4 separate regions of the Homo sapiens genome follow, and all the other regions are linked to region 1. Evidence: fine-mapped expression QTL. A gene starts in region 1. Each other region holds a variant in brackets. All regions are shown on one strand. Distances are between the middles of the regions.

Region 1 (5,122 bases):
CTATATCCAATCACAGATGTGATTAGGTTACCAAGTCCGGCCAGGCAGTCACAGAGGTACAAACGAGGCCATGCTCCCAACATAATATTTACTTCTAAAACCAAGGCAGACCAGATTCCTGCCCTGGACTCTAAGGCCACAGCTGGTACCAAGTTCAGGGAACGGCCAGGTTCACCTTCTATACAAACCTCTTCCCCCACCCATCCCTTCTATTGCTGCCTCCATAACAAACCTCTCACCACAGTGATTCCTGCTACCTTCTCTGTTTAGAAGATGAAAAAGAATGACCTGGGGGGACTGATCAAGTTACTTAGGATAGGGAATAACCCCAATTTTACATCTGAAGCCCCCCAGGATCTGTAGCTGTTTCTTCACAGGAAATTTCTCTTGTAGTTTACCATTTCTTCCCCCCATACCAAAGGCTTCTGCCTTTTCTGCCTCACTGTTCTCCTAGGGGACATACCACCAACCCGAGAAGCACACCTCTCCCTGAGGCCTTGCAAGTAAAGATGAAACAATGCGATGACTGAACTAAGTGGCTTTTTTATTAGAGAAAGCCAGAATTACAAAAGACTTAAGAGTTGGCATTGGGGCCCTTCTTCTTGCCAAAGGTGGGCACAACGTTGACAAAGCGCCGGTTGTACTGCATCCGCCGCTTAGCCCGACCTGTCTTCTTCTTCTTCTTCTCCTGTTTGGCCACCTGGAGAAGGGAAGGTTAATCAGGCCCTGGTTCCTGTCTTCCACACCTAGCATCCCTTCCCTCAGGCTCATCTCCAGGGAGGGAGAAGGCAAACCGAGTAAGAGCCCAGGGACTTGGTTTAGCTGTGAAAGGAAAAAAAGTCCTAACACCATGACCACTAATACTCTCACTCACCTTAGGAGTCTGACCTCTCACTTTTCCAGCACGGGCCAGGGAACCATGGACTTTACCTGTAGTGGGAAAGGAAGGCACCAGCAGGTAAGAGCAAGAAGGTGCCACCCAGCAGAACCCCTCTTTTCTCAATTCAAGCCTTTAAAGAGAAGCTGCGCCCAATAGGTAATGAGAACAAAGTTGCAGATATTTGACCTTGAAATCTTAAGTTTCATTTCAGGATCTTCCAGCTTCTAATTTTATAGAGCACTTTGGGGGCCCTGGTCTGACCTAATTTTAGTGTGGAAGCTGATAACCAGACTAGGATCTCGTGATGTGACTGAAATACAACTACACTCTGGCTCAGTCTCCCATGGACGTCTGTGTTCAACATGAGGGATGTAAACAGGAAGAATCACTCTGAACTGAAGACAGTGAGAAGTACTCTATTACCATAGGTGTGACACTCAGCTGTCAGGACTATGCACCCCACACTCACTAGACGCTTACCGGTACTTCAAAGAACATTCCTCTCTCACTCACCTCCAAGCATGCGGCCTGCTACTTCCAGGGTAGTCAGGGCCTCCACCCCGCACTGGCCCAGAGTGGCCTCATCCTCCAGGGGCGCGCCTGCCAGGAGCACGACTTGATCTTCCGGGGCAATGCCCTCCAGTGAGGCTACATGAGCCTACAGGGAAAGATAAGGCTCGTAAGCGTTCCCTCGGGCCGCGAGAGTGAAGAGCACAAGAAAATGGAACCCAGGGCGCACCAAGCAGCCTTACCTTGATCTGGGCGACCGTTTCCTGGCCGGTCACCTCGAAGGTGTGTAGCTCCTGGGCGCGGACAAAGAGCTGCATATTGGCGACTGAGTAAAGAAAAGACGGCTTGTAAGAGAAGCCAAGAAATGCTCTGGGATAAAGGAGATTTGGGAGTGGAAAGCGGTCCAGAAACGATCGCGACGGGATGGTGGTCGCGGCGGCTCACGTGGGGAAGGCCAGGCCTCCCAAGGAGTTCGGATAGGGACTGGAGCAGGGCCACGGAGCAGGCCCCGTTCTTCGGTTCCCCCCGCGCCTTCTGACCCCGCAGCCAACCTGCTACAAGCCCTTCGGATCCAGCCAAGGCCCCATTCTTACCTGAACGGCGGTCCCAGCTACCGCGAAGATGGAGTCGAGAAAGAGGAAGAAGCGAGGGCGCGTCAGTACAGACCGTGGGCTGCGTGTCACGTCACTGCTGAGCGACCGCGCGGTTCCCTGCTATTTGTACCGCCCAAGGCAGTCCTAGCTCCGCCCCTTTACGCTCGCACCGGCGAACCTGCCTGGGCAGGCAGCTCGCGCAGGACGGGGCGGGACCAGACAGTTGCGCGCACAGAAGGCTGGCGTAGCAGGTAAAGATGGCAGCTACCATGTTCCGGGCTACGCTGCGGGGATGGAGAACCGGTGTCCAGCGGGGCTGCGGGCTACGGCTGTTGGTGAGAGCGCTGAGCGAGGAGCTGAGGGCATCGCGTGGGTGTGAGGCTCAGTGTTAATCATTGTTAACCCCGAAAACTAAGGCATTCCTACTTGGGGCCTTAGTTTTGCCGTTTTCGATCAGGAGAACTTGTCCCGAGTGTACATATAGAATCGAGAGGGAAAATGGTAGACTGGGGTGCTCTTTGGGAGCACTTAACACAGTGCCTGGCAGTGTCTATATAAGCCACAACGTTTCAGGTAAGGGGCGGGGTCCTAGCATATGAGTGTGCGTGGGGAATTATGATTGCCTTAATTCTTTTTTTTTTTTTTTTTGAGACGGAGTCTCGCTCTGTCGCCCAGGCTGGAGGGCAGTGGCGCGATCTCGGCCCACTGCAAGCTCCGCCTCCCAGATTCACGCCATCCTCCTGCCTCAGCCTCCCGAGTAGCTGGGACTACAGGCTCCCGCCACCATGCCCGGCTAATTTTTTGTATTTTTAGTAGAGACGGGGTTTCACCTTGTTAGCCAGGATGGACTGGATCTTCTGACCTCGTGATCCGCCCGCCTCGGCCTCCCAAAGTGCTGGGATTACAGGCATGAGCCGCCGAACCCGTCTGATTGCCTTAATTCTTAAGGCAATCATAAGATTAAACATCACTATATCCCGTCACAGATGTGATTAGGTTAGCAAGGCCAGCCAGGCAATCATGGAGGTACAAACAAGGCCACGCTGCCAATATAATAATATCTATTTCTAAAACCGAGACAGAAAGTTAAGCCTTAAGTTTCTAAAGGCTTGATTGACTTTTCAGAAGTGTACATATACTCTTTTGCATCCCACAGAAATCCTGAGAGGCAGACCATTCAGAGTACCTGAGCCTCCTTTCCATCCCATCTGTACCCTGCACCATGGAAAACCAAAGACTGGTGCTATCTTATGTCAACCTAAATAACAGACTCTAAAAGAAAAGGATATTTATTCGGGAATGGGTATAGACTATGTGCTTATCAGGGAGGTAAAAGAAGACAAAGGTTTTTAACAGAAAAATGGGCCAGGCACGGTGGCTCACGCCTGTAATCCCAGCACTTTGGGAGGCCAAGGCGCGTAGATCACCTGGAGTCAGGAGTTTGAGACAAGCCTGGCCAACATGGTGAAACCCGTCTCTAGAAAAAATACAAAAATTAGCCGGGTGTGATGGCGTGTGCCTGTAGTCCCAGCTACTTGGGAGGCTGAGGTAGGAGACTTGCTTGAACTTGGGAGGCGGAGGTTGCAGTGAGCCGAGATCACACCACTGCACTCCAGCCTAGGTGACAGAGTGAGACTCTATCTAAAAAAATAATAAAAATAAATAAAGGAAAGGAAAAATGAGTATTACATAATTGTTTTGAGACAGTTATCCTTGGCTACAAGGATGAATAACATGGGTGGTGCCAGTTCAAGATTGGACAGGCAGTTGTTGGACAGATGGCCATGCAGGAATTTGTTTTGTTTTGTTTTGTTTGAGAGAGTCTCGTCGCTCTGTCACCGAGGCTGGAGTGCAATGGTGCGATCTTAGCTCACTGCAACCTCCACCTCCTGGGTTCAAGCAATTCTCCTGCCTCAGCCTCCCAAGTAGCTGGGATTACAGGCATGCACCACCATGCCCGGCTAATTTTTGTATTTTCAGTAGAGATGGGGTTTCGCCATGTTGGCCAGGCTGGTGTTGAACTCCTGACCTTAGATGATCCTCCTGCCTCAGCCTCCAAGGTGCTGGGATTACAGGCGTGAGCCACCTTGCCCAGCCAGAAATATTTTTTTGTGTAAGGTTGAAGTGGCCTTTGTGCAAGGCTGTGGTTTTTGCAGTCTTTTGTGGTAGTTCTTGTTATTAAGTATTTGTGCCCAAGAACTCTCTCTTCGTGGCCCTCCCTAGCTCTATTTGTTGGGATTTTTAACCCAAGTGACTCACTCCATTTTGATTCTGATAGCTTTCACACCGTCGCCCAGCCTTTTATTTATGTCATTCTCTCTGCCTGTAATGTTTCCATTCTCTACTTACTGAAGTTATGCCATCCTGTGTTGGGTAGGCTAATGGAGAAATGGGATTTTTGTTTTGCTTCAGAGCCAGACCCAGGGCCCTCCAGATTACCCCAGGTTTGTGGAGTCTGTGGATGAATATCAGTTTGTGGAGCGCCTGTTACCGGCTACCAGGATCCCAGATCCCCCAAAGCATGAACATTATCCTACCCCTAGTGGCTGGCAGCCTCCCAGAGGTGAGCTGGGTGGTTAGGGATGATTTGAAAGCTTCACGGAGCATCACCTCCTCCCCAGAGGTTGGCCTCCCCCATGAGGCTCTGGACTCTCCAGTGGGTTCAGGACTCATTTTGCAATCCCTCTGGGTTACATCTGTCTCATGCCCAAGGAAGAGCCGAGGAGTGGAGCCTTCTGTTGTTCACTGGTACTCATCCATCCACACTATTGAGATCAGGTCTTCCCCATATGGGGGAAAGTAAACAACAGAGAGAAAACCCAAGAGCTTGGACCTTCTTTCCCCCCAGCAGACTATGTACTGTAATTAAGAACACAGCTTGGAGTCAGGCAGTTCTGGGTTTGAATTTGGCTTTATTTACTGTTGATGTTATCTTGAATTAGTCACTTAGCTTGACCCAACCTGTTTTAGCAAAATGGAGATAATCTGCTCAGTACATAGAGCCCTTAGTGCAGAGCCCAGCATATGGTAGGTGCTCAGTGCTTGCAAATCCCAATCTCTTTGTTCCAGAGATTGATTTCGGCCTCCCTGACCCAGTGGAGGAGGGCAAGGGTTGGCCTAGAGGGGGACCCAAAGATCC
Region 2 (5,148 bases), 110 kb after region 1:
GTCCTCTCTTGGATCCTTCTGGAAACAGCAAAAGCCCGTTTTTGCTGAGAAAGTGACTCGGCAGCTATCCGGAGCTCTCTGCCTGCAGGTGGGGCCATTCTCCTATGGAGCCGACCCGACCCGCTCAAAGCTGCCCCGGGAACCGCAGGTTTGGTTCGCGCACGCCGGGACTTGCCAACCGCACCCGAAAAATCGGGGCCATGTCCAAATGTTTCGCTTCGCTGCCGGCAGGGAGCCGCGCCGGGCTCGCTCCTGGGATCAACTGCACAGTCCTGGCTTTGGGGAGCGGGAGGCGGTGAGCCTGCCCGCCCCCCGACCCCTTCCTCACCAGTGTGTCTGGGGTGAGGTGGGGATGGGGAGTCCTGGGGTTCGAAAAAGGATGGGGGAGGAGAAAGAGGAAGTGTTAGGAACTGGTGAACTTTCACAAACTTCCACAAACCCTATTGTAAATGCCTTCAATTAACTGGGATTTTTTTCTTTACTGGTTGATTGATTTAAGACAAGGTCTTGCTCGGGCACCCAGGCTGCAGTGCAGTGGCACAATCATAGCTCACTGCGGCCTCGACCTCCCAGGCTCAAACGATCCTCCCACCTCAGCCTCTGTAGTAGCTAGGACTACAGGTGCCTGCCACCAAGCCCGGGCTCATTTTTAAAAATAGAGATGGGGTGGGGTCTTGCAATGTCGCCCAGGCTGGTCTAGAACTCCTGGACTGAAGCGATCCTCCCCCTTGGTCTCCCAAAGGGCTGGAATAACAGGGTTGAGCCACCTTGTAGTTTTTTTCTAAATTCTGAGAAGCATGCATACTCATTGTTAAAAACATTTTTTCCCCAAACAATCCAGAAACAGGCAGTGTAGTTCATTGGTTAAGAAGCAGGACTCGAACGTACTCCTTTGGTTTGAATCTCAGCTCTGCCACTTACTGGCTTTGTGATCCTTGACAAGTTACTTAACCGCTCTGTGCCTCAGTTTCTCCATTTGTAACATGGGCATCATAATAGAACCTACCACATAAGGCTGTTGTGAAAATTAGTCTGTAAAGCAGGTAGAACAGTGCCTGAATATGAGTTGTTTTCTGTTATCAGGTACATAAGTGCATGTCCCTCTCAACCTACTCTCCCTTCCACCTCTGAACATCTCCCATCTCCCATTTCTGTCAGGCATGAATTTGTATCCTTGCAGCTCTTAGTACATACATGACACCCACATACTTACACACACACACACACACACGTTCTTATAGAAATGGATTTAATAGGGGCTGGGTGTGGTGGCTCATGCCTGTAATCCCAGCACTTTGGGAGGCCGAGGTGGGCGGATCACTTGAGTCAGGAGTTCGAGACCAGCCTGTCCAACATGGTGAAACTCCATCTCTACTGAAAATATAAAAATTAGCCAGGTGTGGTGGCACGCACCTGTAGTCCCAACTACTCAGGAGGCTGAGGCAGGCGAATCACTTGAACCCGGGAGACAGAGGCTGCAGTGAGCCAAGATCTCGCCACTGTACTCCAGCCTGGGCAACAGAGCGAGACAGAGTGTCTCAAGAGAAAAAAAAAAAAGGATTAATACTCTACCTCTTCTGCTTTTGTTTTTTTAATAACTTAATCACATCTGTAAAAACTTTTACAACATTACATGTAACCAGCTTCCGGCATGTGATAGCTTTGCAATAAATATTTGATGAGTGAATGAACCAATGAGTGAATGAATGAATTTTAGAATATTGTGAGCCACAGAATTATAAGATGAAAAGGAATCTTAGAGAATGTCTGGTCCATTCTCCCTGCCACTGCCAATCTCGCCTGAGTGGCAATGCTGGCTAGTCGTGGTCCAGTCTCTCTGGGAAGACTCCGTTTCTAGAGCTCACATTCTCAGGAGCCTTTCCCCCTTCTTTCCTCCTAGGTGAGCAGACACGTTAACAAGCAAAAGAACTGAATGTAAAACTGGTGGTTTTTGACTGAGTGTCCCTCAAATTTCTCAATGGCCACTTTATTTTTTGTGAATGTTATAGTCTTATATTGCTTATAACAAATCACCATAATTTAGTGGCTTAAAATAACACCCATTTATGAGCTTACAATTCTGCAGGCCAGAAGTGCCAGCTGGGTTCTCTGCTCAGGCTCTTAGGAGGCTGAAACGAAGCCTCCTTTCTGGAGGCTCTGGGGAAGAATTCACAGCCAAGTTCATTTCAATTGTTGGTTCGATTTAACTGCTTGCAGCTGTAGGATTTATGTCTCCATTTCCTCACAGGCTGTTCATAAAAGCCACCTACATTCCTGGCTAAGTGGCCTCCTCCACCTCAAAGGAATATCTTCCTCATATCAAATCTCTCCCATGCTTTGAATCTCCAACTCCCAGTCTTTGACCTCTAGACCCAGATTTAAATCTCATGTTATTAGATCAGGCCCTCCCAGAAAAATCTCTGTTTTAAAGTTAAGTGATTTGGGACCTTAATTACATCTGCAAAATCCTTTCACAACACCTAGATTAGTGTTTGAATAACTGGGAGAAGGTTTGTGTACACCCGGGCCAGGAATTTGATGGACCATCTTGGAGTTCTTCTTCCCACATACAGGTTTATTTGTTTTTTTGTTTTTGTTTTTGTTTTTGTTTTTTCAAGGCAGAGTCTCACTCTGTCACCCAGGCTGGAGTGCAGTAGTGCCATCTCAGCTCACCGCAACCTCTGTCTCCTGTGTTCAAGCAATTCTCCTGCCTCAGCCTCCTGAGTAGCTGGGACTACAGGTATGTGCCACCATGCCCAGCTAGTTTTTGTATTTTTAGTAGAGACGGGTTTTCTCTATGTGGGCCAGGCTGGTCTC[G/A]AACTCCTGACCTGAAGGGATCTGTCTGCCTCAGCCTCCCAAAATGCTGGGATTACAGGCATGAGCCACCGCACGTGGCCCACATATACTTTTTATTGAAGTATAACACACATGCAAAAATGCACAAGGCTCAGCTTGACAAATTCTCACAAACTGTACACACCCATTAATCAACACACTGGTCAAGAAACAGAACATGATCAGCCTCCAGAAACCCCGTCCCCCCATGTCTTCTTCAGTCATTACCCTCCCCTATGGGAATCACTATCCTTATTTCTAATGCCACAGATTACATTAGCCTGTTTTTGGGCTTTATATAACTTGAGCTACATAGTTTTTGTAATTTATACCGTTTGTGAGATGCACTCATGTTGTCATATGTAATTTAGTTCGTTCTTTCTTCGTGTATAACAATCCATGGTACGAATATACTACTTGTGGTAGACAGAATAATGACCCCCAAAGATGTTTGAATCTTTATAGCTTTTCTGTAAATATATATTTATTACAAAATAAAAATTATTTTTAAAAAGCAAGGTATGCAGTAGAATAAGATACTTGCAGAAACCAATATCCAACAAAAAACCATATCCAGAAAATATATCTACGTCTATATATAATGTATATATATTACTAGAAATCAATAAGTAACATTCGTCCCCATCCTAATCCCTGGAATCTATAAATATGTTACCTTCTATGGCAAAAGGGACTTTGCAGATGTAACTAAGGATCTTGAAGGAGGATTACCCTGGATCATCTGAGTGGGCCCAGTACGATCACAAGGGTCCCTACAAGTGGAAGAAGAAGGTCAGAGTGAGAGAGAGACCTTTGGAGACGCTGTGTGCTGCTGGCTTTGAAGACAGAGGAAGGAGCCACAAGTCAAGGAATGCAGGCAGCCTCTAGAAGCTGGCAAAGGCAAGCAAACAGATTCTCCCATGGAGTCTTCAGAAGGAACACAGCCCTGCCCACACTCTGACATTAGCTCAGTAACACACGTTAGGCTTCTCACTTCCAGAAGTGTAAGATAATACATTTGTGTTGTTCTATGGCACTAAATTTGTGGTAATCTGTTACAGCAGCAATTGGAAACTAATACAGAAACGTTACCAATTTTTTTTTTTCTGAGACGGAGTCTCGCCCTGTTGCCCAGGCTGGAGTGCAGTGGCACGATCTCAGCTCACTGCAACCTCCTCCGCCTCCTGGGTTCAAGCAATTCTCTGCCTCAGCCTCCCGAGTAGCTGGGACTACAGGCGCGTGCCACCACGCCCGGCTAATTTTTTGTATTTTTAGTAGAGACAGGATGGTCTCAATCTCCTGACCTTGTGATCCGCAGATCTCGGCCTCCTGAAGTGCTGGGATTACAGTCGTGAGCCACCGCGCCCAGTCTACCTATTTTATTGCTGAAGAACATTGGGCTTTTCCCAGGTTGGGCTGTTACAAATACTGCTGCTATAAATATTCTTGTACATTTCTCTTGGTGAAAAAACACACTTGTCTGTCCTTCCTTCCTTCCATCCTTCCTTTCTTCCTTTCCTTCCTTCCTTTCCTTCCTTCCTTCCTTCCTTCCTTCCTTCCTTCCTTCCTTTCTTTCTTTCTTTCTTTCTTTTTCTCTCTTTCTTTCTTTCCTTAAATATGGAGACAGGATCTCACTATGTCGCCCAGGCTGGTCTCAAATTCCTAAGCTCAAGCAATCCTCCCACTTCAGCCTCCCAAAGTGCTGGGATTACAGATGTGAGCCACTGCACTGAGCCCACGCTTGCGTTTCTGTCAGATACATACCTAGGATTGGAACTGCTGGATCATAAAGTATGGGTGTGTTTCTCTGTAATAGAAGCAAGCAGTTTTCCAAAGTGGTTATACCAATTCACACCCTCATTAGAAGCATATGAGTTCAACTTGTTCCACATCCCTAGTAACACTTGGTATTGTCTGTAATTTAATTTTAGCCATTATAGTGAGTGTGTAGTGATACTGTACTGTGATTTCCAATTTGCACTTCTCTGATGTCTAAGGAATGTAAAAATATTTGCATGAACTTATTGGTATTTTGGATGGCTTTTTTTTAATGAAATGCTTATCCAAGACTTCTGCCAATGTTTCTACAGGGTTATCTTTTTTCTTATCGCCTTACATAAGAATTTTTTTTTTCTTGGCCAGGCGCAGTGGCTCATGCCTGTAATCCCAGCACTTTGGGAGGCTGAGGTGGGCAGATAACTTGAGGTCAGGAGTTTGAGACCAGCCTGGTCAATGCAGTAAAACCCCATCTCTACTAAAAATACAAAATTAGCTGGGCGTGGTGGTGTGCGCCTGTAATCCCGGCAACTTGGA
Region 3 (5,148 bases), 140 kb before region 1:
CCTCTGCCTCCTGGGTTCAAGCAGTTCTCCTGCCTCAGCCTCCCAAGTAGCTGGGATTACAAGTGTGCACCACCACACCCGGCTAATTTTTGTATTTTTAGTAGAGACGGGTGTTCACCATGTTGGCCAGGCTGGTCTGGAACTCCTGATCTCAGGTGATCCGCCTGCCTCGGCCTCCCAAAGTGCTGGGATTACAGGTGTGAGCTACCATGCCCGGCCCTCTCCTGGTCCCTTTCTCCCAGGGACTCCCAGAAAGGCTTCTCAGAGGGGCCCTGGTCACATTGTCACATTCTGTAACTGGCTTTCCTCCCCCTAAGCAGTTCAGTCTGAGAGCCCCAGAGAACAAAACAAATCCTGTCCTAGGAAGAAGCCTAGCACCTACTGAGGAAGAATTGAGTGCTGGGAATAGGGCCCCCATTAACAGCCAGCCCCTGAAGCTCTTAGGGAAATGCTCTGCAGACCCATGATCTCCCCAAGAGGGTCAGAACCAGGTCTTGTTCCTTAGAGAGCTGCTGCTGCTTCTTGGGCCTGTGCAGCTTCCCAGCCTCCAAGGCTGAGGGAAGGAGCCACTTAATCAACAGCTCCATTTCCTGCAGCACCTGGGGCTCCCCAACCCCTACCACCTCCCTTTGGGCTTCCCAGGTCAATTACCTGCCAGGCAACGGGCCTCAGCTCAGAAAATCTGACCAGCCAGAGACTGGTCTGACGGGGCCATGGGGAATTGAAATGACTTGACTCAGAGAGGCAACCCTGGGGGTAGGGACAGGGGGATCTGCCCCCACCCTTAGGGTAGTGTAATTCAGTCTTCAGTTTACCACTCCCTCTCTGTGTGTTGGGTGTCTGACTCACAGTAAGGCTGTGAAACCCATTGACCATCCAGGTATGAGCCTTGTGGAGATTGAAGAGGTGATGGGGTGGGATAGGTTTGCTCAAAGAGGCCTCCAAATCCTTCCAGGCTCAGCCCAGACCTTGAAGGCCTTTTTGCAGTTTTAGTAACACGAGCCGATTCCTGCGGTTGGTGGCTGTCACAGGACAGAAGCAGAGGACCCCAGCAAGGAGGTGAACCACTAACCCGGGAGTCCCCTCCCCAACCACAGAGATCCTTCAGAAGAGCTCTCTTTGGCTATGTTTTGTGTTTGAATCTAACTCAAAAGACCAAGCTGTTAGAGGCTCAAGTGTTCCCAAGAATCGTCCATGAAAACTGTTGTAGACACTGGGTCCAGGCCCACCCCAGGGAGTCAGACTCAGGAGTCTTGGCATGATTGAGAGATCTGTCCTAGGTTATTTTTACCCTGACTGGAGTCTCTTCCCTGTCCGCCCCCTCACCAGATAAACAGAAGCCAAGACACAAGGAGGAAAGCTTGCAAGGGCCTGGGTACGCTGTCGGATGTAGTGGAGGCAGGACTGGCCTCTCTGGAGAGACTTCAGCATTCTCTGCTTTGAAAAACGGGGCTGTAGACCTTTTAAAATGGCATGCATTTCTGCAGGAACACAAAGACACTTACAGTCCCCAAGGAATAGTCTCTCTCCTGCAGGATGGGAATGCCCCCAGAAGGCACTGAACCACTAATCCAAGAGGAAAGTTCTCAGATTCCTTCTTGCCTCAGGTCCCCCATATCAGACCTGAGGTTTTTCCTTCAACCCTCCCTGAGCACAGGCTCTGATCTGTCCATGGTTCTGATTTTTAATGGATTTCACTTGGGGGCAAGTCATGAGTTTTTTCATTCACTTGGAGTAGTTAACACTTACTGAACACTTACTATATGCCAGGGACTGTGAGCTACTCCTTACACGCAACCCCCTTTTTCCAAAGTAACCAGACATAATAGAAAAAACCACAGGTCAGGCTGGGCGTGGTGGCTCACGCCTATAATCCCAGCACTTTGGGAGGCCGAGGCGGGCGGATCACGAGGTCAGGAGATCGAGACCGTCCTGGCTAACACGGTGAAACCCCGTCTCTACTAAAAATACAAAAAATTAGCC[G/A]GGCGTGGTGGCGGGCGCCAGTAGTCCCAGCTACTCGGGAGGCTGAGGCAGGAGAATGTCGTGAACCTGGGAGGCGGAGCTTGCAGTGAGCCGAGATCCCACCGCTACGCTCCAGCCTGGGCGACAGAGCCAGACCCTGTCTCAAAAAACAAAACAAAACAAAACAAAAACCCACCACAGATCATAAATGTGTAGCTCAGTGAATTTTCTTTTTCTTTTTTGAGACAGAGTCTCGCTCTGTCGCCCAGGCTGGTCTTGAACTCTTGGGCTTAAGCCATCCTCTCACCTGGCTTCCCAAAGTGTTGGGATTACAAGTGTGAGCCACCATGCCTGGCTGAACATATACTTTTCTATTATACCTATCGTATTAGTTCGTTTTCACACTGCTGACAAAGACATACCTGAAACTGGGAAGAAAAAGAGGTTTAATTGGACTTACAGTTCCACATGGCTGGGGAGGCCTCAGCATGGCGGGAGGCAAAAGACACTTCTTACATGACAGCAGCAAGAGAAAAATGAGGAAGACGCAAAAGAAGAAACCCCTGATAAACGCATCAGATCTCGTGAGACTTACTCACTGTCACGAGAATAGCACGGGAAAGATAGACCCCCATGATTGAATTACCTTTCCCTGGGTCCCTCCCACAACACGCGAGAATTCTGGGAGATACAATTCAAGTTGAGATTTGGGTGGGGACACAACCAAACCATATCACCTATCTACATTATACATTCATATATTTGTGTATATACACACACACATATATGTTGGGTGGACTGTAGGTGGGTACCTTTTTAAATCTCCATTTTCCAGATGAGAAAGCTCAGTCTTGAAGTTGAATGAGGAAATAATAGAGCTGAGATTTGAACCTAATCCTGTCTGGCCCTGGAGCCTAAGCTGTTTCACCACTAACCGCTATGCTCCACTGCCTCCGAAAGCATAGGCTTTTTTTTTTTTTTTTTTTTTTTTTGAAACAGAGTCTCGCTGTCGCCCAGGCTGGAGTGCAGTGGCACGATCTTGGCTCACTGCAGGCTCCATCCCCTGGGGTTCACGCCATTCTCCTGCCTCAGCCTCCTGAGTAGCTGGGACTACAGGCGCCTGCCACCACGCCCGGCTAATTTTTTTTGTATTTTTAGTAGAGACGGGGTTTCACCGTGTTAGCCAGGATGGTCTCGATCTCCTGACCTCGTGATCTGCCCACCTCGGCCTCCCAAAGTGCTGGGATTACAGGCGTGAGCCACCGCACCCGGCCAGCATAGGCTTTTTAAAACTACTCATTGGCCGGACACAGTGGCTCATGGCTGTAACCACAGAACTTTGGGAGGCCGAGATGGGAGAATCGTTTGAGGCCAGGAGCTCGAGACCAGCCTGGTCAACATAGCAAGACCCCATCTCTAACAAAAATTTTAAAAAGTAAAAAATTAAAAAATAAAAGTATTCATTATGTGTCGGCCAGGTGTGACTCACGCCTGAGAATCTGGTACATTGGGAGGCCGAGAAGGGAGAATCACTTGAGCCTGGGAGGTCAAGGCTGCAGTGAGTTGTGTTTGTGCCATTACACTCCAGCCTGGGCCTCCCTGTCTCAGTAATAATAATAATCATAATCATTATGTGCCACACTGGTTGCTATCATTGAGGGAGGGAAGAGGGTAGCAAGACACAGTCACACAAAAAGGAAGATGACAGAAAAGCACAGGACGGGCATGGAGAGGAAAGCAGGTCACTTTTTTTTTTTTTTTTTTTGAGACGGATTTTTGCTCTTGTTGCCCAGGCTGGAGTACAATGGCATGGTCTTGGCTCACCACAACCTCTGCCTCCTGGGTTCAAGCGATTCTCCTGCCTCAACCTCCCGAGTAGCTGGGATTACAGGCATGCATCACCATGCCCGGCTAATTTTGTATTTTTAGTAGAGACGGGGTTTCTCCATGTTGGTCAGGCTGGTCTTGAACTCCCAACCTCAGATGATCCGCCTGCTTTGGCCCCTCAAAGTGCTGGGATTACAGGTATGAGCCAACGCGCTGGGCCTGCAGGTCACTTTTATCTTGGAAGATTACAGGAGGCTTCCTGGAGAAAGGAGCATTTGAAAAGGAAGGATGGGGCCGGGCGCGGTGGTTCACGCCTGTAATCCCAGCACTTTGGGAGGCCAAGGCGGGTGGATCACTAGGTCAGGAAATCGAGACCATCCTGGCTAACACGGTGAAACCCCGTCTCTACTAAAAATAGAAAAAATTAGCCGGGCGAGGTGGCGGGCGCCTGTAGTCCCAGCTACTCAGGAGGCTGAGGCAGGAGAATGGCGTGAACTCAGGGGGACAGAGCCTGCAGTGAGCCGAGATCGCGCCACTGCACTCCAGCCTGGGCGACAGCGAGACTCCATCTCAGAAAAACAAAAAGGAAGGATGGGGGCAAATTCTGGGCATGAAGGAGTGATAAGGGAAAGACTATCAGGCTGAGAGCTCTGGGTGCACAAGAAAACACAGGCTGCAAAGGCCCTCAGAGGTCATCTTGCCCATCTCTCATTGTCCACCAACCTACTGATGGCTTCCAAATTTATTTATCCAGTCCTGACATTTCCCAGACTCCAGACTCTTATTTAAACCAGTTGGATGTCAAATAGGTATCCCAAATTTAACATGGCCAAAATAGGGCTCCTGATCCCCACCACCAAACCCCAAACTGCCCCTCTTCCAGCCTTTCTTGGTTTTTGGCACCACCAACCATCAATTGCTCAGGTCCCAAATCTCAGTCATCCTTCCTTCCTCCCTTTCACCACACTCAGTCCATGAGCATATCCCATCAGCTGTATCTGTAAAGCACACCCTGAATCCGACCACTTCTTTTCTGTCAGTTTTTAAGTTTTGTGAATACACAGTAGGCATGCATGAGATGTTTTGAATACAAGCATGCAAGGCACAATAATCACATCATGGAGAATGAGGTATCCACCCCTTAAGCATTTATCCTTGGTGTTACAAACAATACAATTACACTCTTTTAATTATTTCCAAGTGACAATTACATGATTATTGACTATAGTCACCCTATTATATGCCATCAAATAGTAGGTCTTATTCATTCTTTCTACTTTTTTTTTGTATCTGTTAATCATCCCCACCTCCCCCCACCCACCCCCAATCCTCTTCCTAGCCTTTGGTAATCATCCTTCT
Region 4 (5,148 bases), 28 kb after region 1:
CCAAGGATGGAGCTGGAGGCACAAGAAGAGCTGTCTCAACCAGGCCTTGCCCAAATTGCATAATGGTAAGAAAATAAATGATTGGTATTGTCATAAGCCTCTAGGTTTGAGAGTGGCTTGTTTCACAGCCCTAATCTAATTTGACTCCCTGTTCTTGGCCCCAGACCCAGGGCCTGCCACAGAATAAGAACTCAGGGAGTGTTGAAGAAGTGAGTCAACAAATGATTGGGCTGAGCGTGGTGGCTCACGCCTGTAATCCCAGCACTTTGGGAGGCCGAGGCAGGTGGATCATCTGAGTGAGGTCAGGAGTTCAAGACCAGCCTGGCCAACAGGATGAAACCCCATATCTACTAGAAATATAAAAATTAGCCAGGTATGGTGATGCGTGCCTGTAATCCCAGCTACTCAGGAGGCTGAGGCAGAAGAATCACTTGAACCCAGGAAGTCGAGGTTGCAGTGAGCCAAGATAGCGCCACTGCACTCCAGCCTGGCTGACAGAGTTAGACTCTGTCTCAAAAAAAAAAAAAAAAAAAAAAAAAAAAAAAAAAAAAAAAAAAAAAAAAGACTGGATTGGCTAAGTGGATGATGGATGATTGAATGGTTGGATAAGTGAATTGTGTTAAGCCTGACAGGTCTAGAGTGATGAGCTGTGGCAGAATCAGGGGCTCAGAGTCCAGTAGCTTCAAGGAGGATGAGAAGCCATCTCTGCTGGAATTGTTATAAATAATTTCCTGGGAAGGGTCCCTGGCAGATCTACTTGGAGTGGCATTGTCACAGGCAGTGCATACTCAGCTGCTCAGGTGAGACACTAACTGCAAGCCCAGAATCTGGAAAGCTCCACAGTGCAGTGGGCCCAGCCTTACTATCCCTGCTGGAACCACACCAGCAGAAGGAGTGCCCGAGGGCTGCTACCTGTCTCCCTCGACTCCACTTAGTTCCAAATGTAAGTCTCACATGATTGAAACTGTGGAAGGAGGCTGGGTGCGGTTGCTCTCACCTATAATCCCTGCACTTTGGGAGGCCAAGGGGGCGGATCACCTGAAGTCGGGAGTTCAAGACCAGCCTGACCAACATGAAGAAACCCCATCTTTACTAAAAATAAAAAACTAGCCAGGCATGGTGGCACATGCCTGTAATCCCAGCTACTTGGGGGGCTGAGGCAGGAGAATCACTTGAACCCAGGAGACAGAGATTGCAGTGAGCCGAGATCACACCACTGCACCCCAGCCTGGGGAGCAAGAGTGAAACTCAGTCTTTTAAAAAAAAAAAAAAAACCAGAAGGAATATATGTAACTCAAGTTTTGTGTGGTTTTTTTTTTTTTTTTTTTTTTTTTTTTTTTTTTTTTTTTACCGTTCCAGCCTCTGTGGTCCAGGCAGCCAGCTGGGAGAAGGCTGAGACAGATGCTCAGTGACAAGTGTGAGCTTGCTAATCTGACAAAGGCCTTTCTAAGGGGGCATTTGGATTTCTGCATGATATGCTTCCAGCCTGCCTCCTAACCCCACCAAATCCTCATCATGCACTTTGTTATTTATTTATTTTTGAGACGGAGTCTCACTCTTGTCGACCACGCTAGAGTGCAGTGGTGTGATCTCGACTTACAACAACTTCCGCCTCCTGGGTTTAAGCAATTCTCCTGCCTCAGCCTCCTGAGTAGCTGGGATTACAGGCACCTGCCACCATGCCCAGTTAATTTTTGTATTTTTAGTAGAGATGGGATTTCATATGTTGGCCAGGCTGGTCTCGAACTCCTGACCTCAGGTGATCCACCCACCTCAGCCTCCCAAAGTCTGGGACTACAGGCATGAGCCACCTTACCCGGCCCTCATCATGCACTTTGTATTGTGGTCAAACTTAACTTGTCTCATTCCCCAAACTCTGCTTGCCTCTTCAGCCTAGCTATCTTCACTTTTGCTCAAACCTATATAAAGTAGCATGCTTTTCCCTTTCTTCTTTGTCTGGAAAATTCTTAGTGCACACCCTTACACATTTCCAGCATCAGCCATGAACCTGAGTGAGTCTCTCCCCACCACATGGTGCCTACAGCATTTGTCCCTGTGTGAACACAGCCCCTATGACCCTGCATTGTAATCACTTCTGTGTCTGTGACATCCTTCAGGGCAGGGCTGAGAATAATAAATGTTGGGCAGTTACAGTTTTAACCTTTATGTCAATCCTGAGTCAGGTACTATTATCATATCGGTTTCATAGATGAAGAAACTGAGGCTCAGAGAGATTAAGTAACTTGCCTGAGGTTTGCCCAACTAATAGGGAAAGACAAAGTCAAGATTTAAGCCCAGGTCGGGTGCGGTGCCTCACGCCTGTAATCCCGGCACTTTGAGAGGGCAAGGGTGGGGGGATCACCTGAGGTCGGGAGTTCGAGACCAGCCTGGGCAACATGGTGAAATCCCATCTCTACTAAAAATACAAAAATTAGCCAGGCATTGGGGGTGGGTGCCTGTAGTCCCAGCTACTCGGAAGGCTGAGGCATGAGAATTGCTTGAATCCAGGAGACGGAGGTTGCAGTGAGCCAAGACTGCGCTACTGCACTCCAGCCTGGGTGACGGAGCGAGATTCCTTCTCAAAAAAAAAAAAAAAAAAGACTTAAGCCCAGACAGGGTGGCCCCATGGCCCTTCTCTCAACCCCCGCGCTTTGTAACAGGTCCATTTTCTCATCCCCATGGCAACTAGTCATTTTATTACTGAGAAAACAGATATTCTTGAGGTTACAGAAAGGAAGAAAAATAAGAAAAGAAAACAGATGTTCGAAGAGGCTAAGAAAGTCAGCCAGAGTCACCCTGCTGGCGTGTGGCCGGGAGGCACTCTATCTACTTCTCTGACACTGCGCTGCACCTCCAGTGAGGGCCTGTGGTGACTTCTTCCTCCTATTGAAGCAGTGTCTCGGGGCTGAGTCATTCCCAACAGTTTCTGTGCAAAGCCAGGGAACAGCCACCTCAGGCCCCTTGGCAGGCTGCCACCCTAGGCAGTTGTCTCGAGTCTGGGTGTCCTCGGAGGGCAGAGCAGGGACAGGAGGCTGATGTCCCCTCCCTCTGCCAGGGCACGGGCAGCCAGGCAGTGAGG[C/T]CACATTAGGACTCAATTCAGGCTGGCCTGAGCATCTGAGAAAGGGAAGTAGGATAGAGGGGCAGGCTGGGGACAGATCCATGGGCAACATGGATCACCCAAGACTAGTACAAAGAAAGGGGCTGGGGCACTAAGGTACAGATTGGGCAATCAGCACACAGTATGTGCCAGGTGCAGGGCTGGGTGCTGGGATTCCAGGGTGAGCAAAAAGACACCTACCCTCATGAGACTCCTGCCCAGTGCAGGAAATTCAGGGCACATACCTTTTCTCCTACCGCTCACACCTGCTCCTCCTGCCTCCTCATTTTTCCTTCCAGCTAGAATGGGTGGAGTTTCCCTCTTCCCATTCATTCACTCTATTATTCACCCAAGTATTTATCCAGTGCCCACCTTGAACCAGGTCTTGTTCTAAGTGTCATGAATGTATTAGCAAATGAAATAGAAAAAAGTCCCTTCCCTTATGAAGCTTACAGAATACTAAAGACAAAAAATAAACCAGGAAGCACGTAGAGAAGTGTAGAGAAGTGATGACTTTGAGAAATCAAGAAGGAAGAGGAGTCGAGCAGAAGAGGAGGACCCAGAAGCTTTGAAAGGAAGAGAGAGGTTGGGCATGGTGGCTCATGCCTATGATTCTAGCACTTTGGGAGGCTGAGGTGGGAGGATCACCTGATCCCAGGAGTTTGAGACCAGCCTGGGCAACATAGTGAGACCCTATCTGTATAAAAAAATAAAAATAAAAAAGAAAGGAGGAGAAAGATGGCTGTTCCATTCTAGTAGGAGAGGAGGCAGAGAAAGTGTGTACAGGTGCAGATTCAGGTAAAATAGAGGAGAAGAAAAAGGGAAAGAGGCTGGGCGCAGTGGCTCACACCTGTAATCCCAGCATTTTGGGAGGCCAAGGGGGGTAGATTGCTTGAGCCCAGGAGTTCAAGACCAGCCTGGGCAACATGGCGAAACCCTGTCTCTACAAAAAATTAGCTGGGCTTGGTGGCACGCACCTGTGGTCCAAGTTATTCAGGAGGCTGAGGTGGGAGGATGGCTTGAGCCCAGGAGGCAGAGGTTGCAGTGAGCAGAGATCAAGCCACTGCACTAAACAGCCTCGGTGACAGTGAAACCCTGTCTCAAAGCAAAGAAAGAAAAAGAAAAAGGGAAAGAAGTCATGTTGGAGCTTTGCAGAGAGAGGAGAGGGTGTGATTAGTTACCTCAGAAAGTGGAAATGTGATTCTGAATGACATTTTTGTAAGAAAAAAAGTGGAAATGCGAAGTTTCTAGACATCTGCAGTGTGATTGCCAGGGAACATGAATGGCCAAGGAGTTTTGTAGCTGAGTTGAAAGTGAAACAATCCTCTGGCTGTCTGATTTCCTCTTATTCCAGTACAGGCACCAAGTAGGATGGTTCAACCAGGGCTTGAGTCTCCCAGGTGAGGTGGTTTTAGGAATGTCCATGCATTCTAGATGCTCCTCCTTTCTTTCTCTCTCTCTTTCTTTCTCTCTCTCTTTCTTTCTTTCTTTCTTTCTTTCTTTTTTAGACAGAGTCTCGCTCTGTCACCCAGGCTGGAGTGCAGTGGCACGATCTCGGCTCACTGCAACCTCTGCCTCCCAGATTCAAGTGATTCTCCTGCCTCAGCCTCCTGAGTAGCTAGGATTACAGGTGCGTGCCACCATGCCTGGCTGATTTTTGTATTTTTAGTAGAGATGGGGTTTCACCATGTTGGTCAGGCTGGTCTTGAACTCCTGACCTCATGATCTGCCCGCCTTGGCCTCCCAAAGTGTTGGGATTACAGGTGTGAGCCACCGCGCCTGGCCTGATACTCCTCCTTTCAAGACATGGAACCTCGCTCCCCTCCCGCGAATGTAAACTGGACTTAGTGACTCACTTCTAAAGAATAGAATCAATGAAAGTGATGGTGAGAGACCTAGGAGAGCTGGCACAAACACACTTTGGCTTCCTGTCTGCACTGTCTCTTGGATCTCTTGCTCTGGGGAAGCCAGCTGCCATGTCATGAGACACTCAGCAGCCCTGTGGACAGGTTCACATGGTGAGGAACTGAGGCCCCCCAGCCAATAGCCGT

Direction of the effects. Alleles are on the strand shown, and positions count from the first base shown. SD is a standard deviation of normalised expression in the study named. Not every link is listed here.
As copies of G replace A in region 2, the expression in fibroblasts of the gene that starts at base 2,215 in region 1 goes up (moderate effect, 0.59 SD a copy in GTEx).

What was found. PIP is the estimated chance that this variant, and not a neighbour inherited with it, causes the effect.
Region 2: its variant is fine-mapped to the expression of MRPL49 in fibroblasts (GTEx, PIP above 0.99). The same link has a PIP of 0.9 or more in gastroesophageal junction and tibial artery.
Region 3: its variant is fine-mapped to the expression of MRPL49 in whole blood (INTERVAL, PIP above 0.99).
Region 4: its variant is fine-mapped to the expression of MRPL49 in whole blood (INTERVAL, PIP above 0.99).

The regions. Positions count from the first base shown.
Region 1 is chr11:65,120,107-65,125,228 of GRCh38, forward strand. MRPL49 (mitochondrial ribosomal protein L49) reads left to right here and starts at 2,215. Exons shown (of 4, transcript NM_004927.4): 1 at 2,215-2,318; 2 at 4,396-4,546. The coding sequence starts at 2,241. FAU (FAU ubiquitin like and ribosomal protein S30 fusion) reads right to left here and starts at 2,028. Exons shown (of 5, transcript NM_001997.5): 1 at 1,984-2,028; 2 at 1,633-1,715; 3 at 1,394-1,538; 4 at 875-930; 5 at 524-700. The coding sequence starts at 1,707. The coding sequence ends at 575. RefSeq lists enhancers at 1,986-2,075, 2,236-2,505.
Region 2 is chr11:65,225,699-65,230,846 of GRCh38, forward strand. It overlaps the pseudogene SLC22A20P. Among named protein-coding and RNA genes, the nearest start is that of POLA2, 34 kb to the right of the region's middle. RefSeq lists an enhancer at 172-371. The variant G/A (reference allele first, on the strand shown) is at 2,818.
Region 3 is chr11:64,976,178-64,981,325 of GRCh38, forward strand. No RefSeq gene overlaps it. Among named protein-coding and RNA genes, the nearest start is that of MAJIN, 6.6 kb to the left of the region's middle. The variant G/A (reference allele first, on the strand shown) is at 1,984.
Region 4 is chr11:65,147,961-65,153,108 of GRCh38, forward strand. No RefSeq gene overlaps it. Among named protein-coding and RNA genes, the nearest start is that of SYVN1, 16 kb to the left of the region's middle. RefSeq lists an enhancer at 2,796-2,845 and a silencer at 4,754-4,933. The variant C/T (reference allele first, on the strand shown) is at 3,080.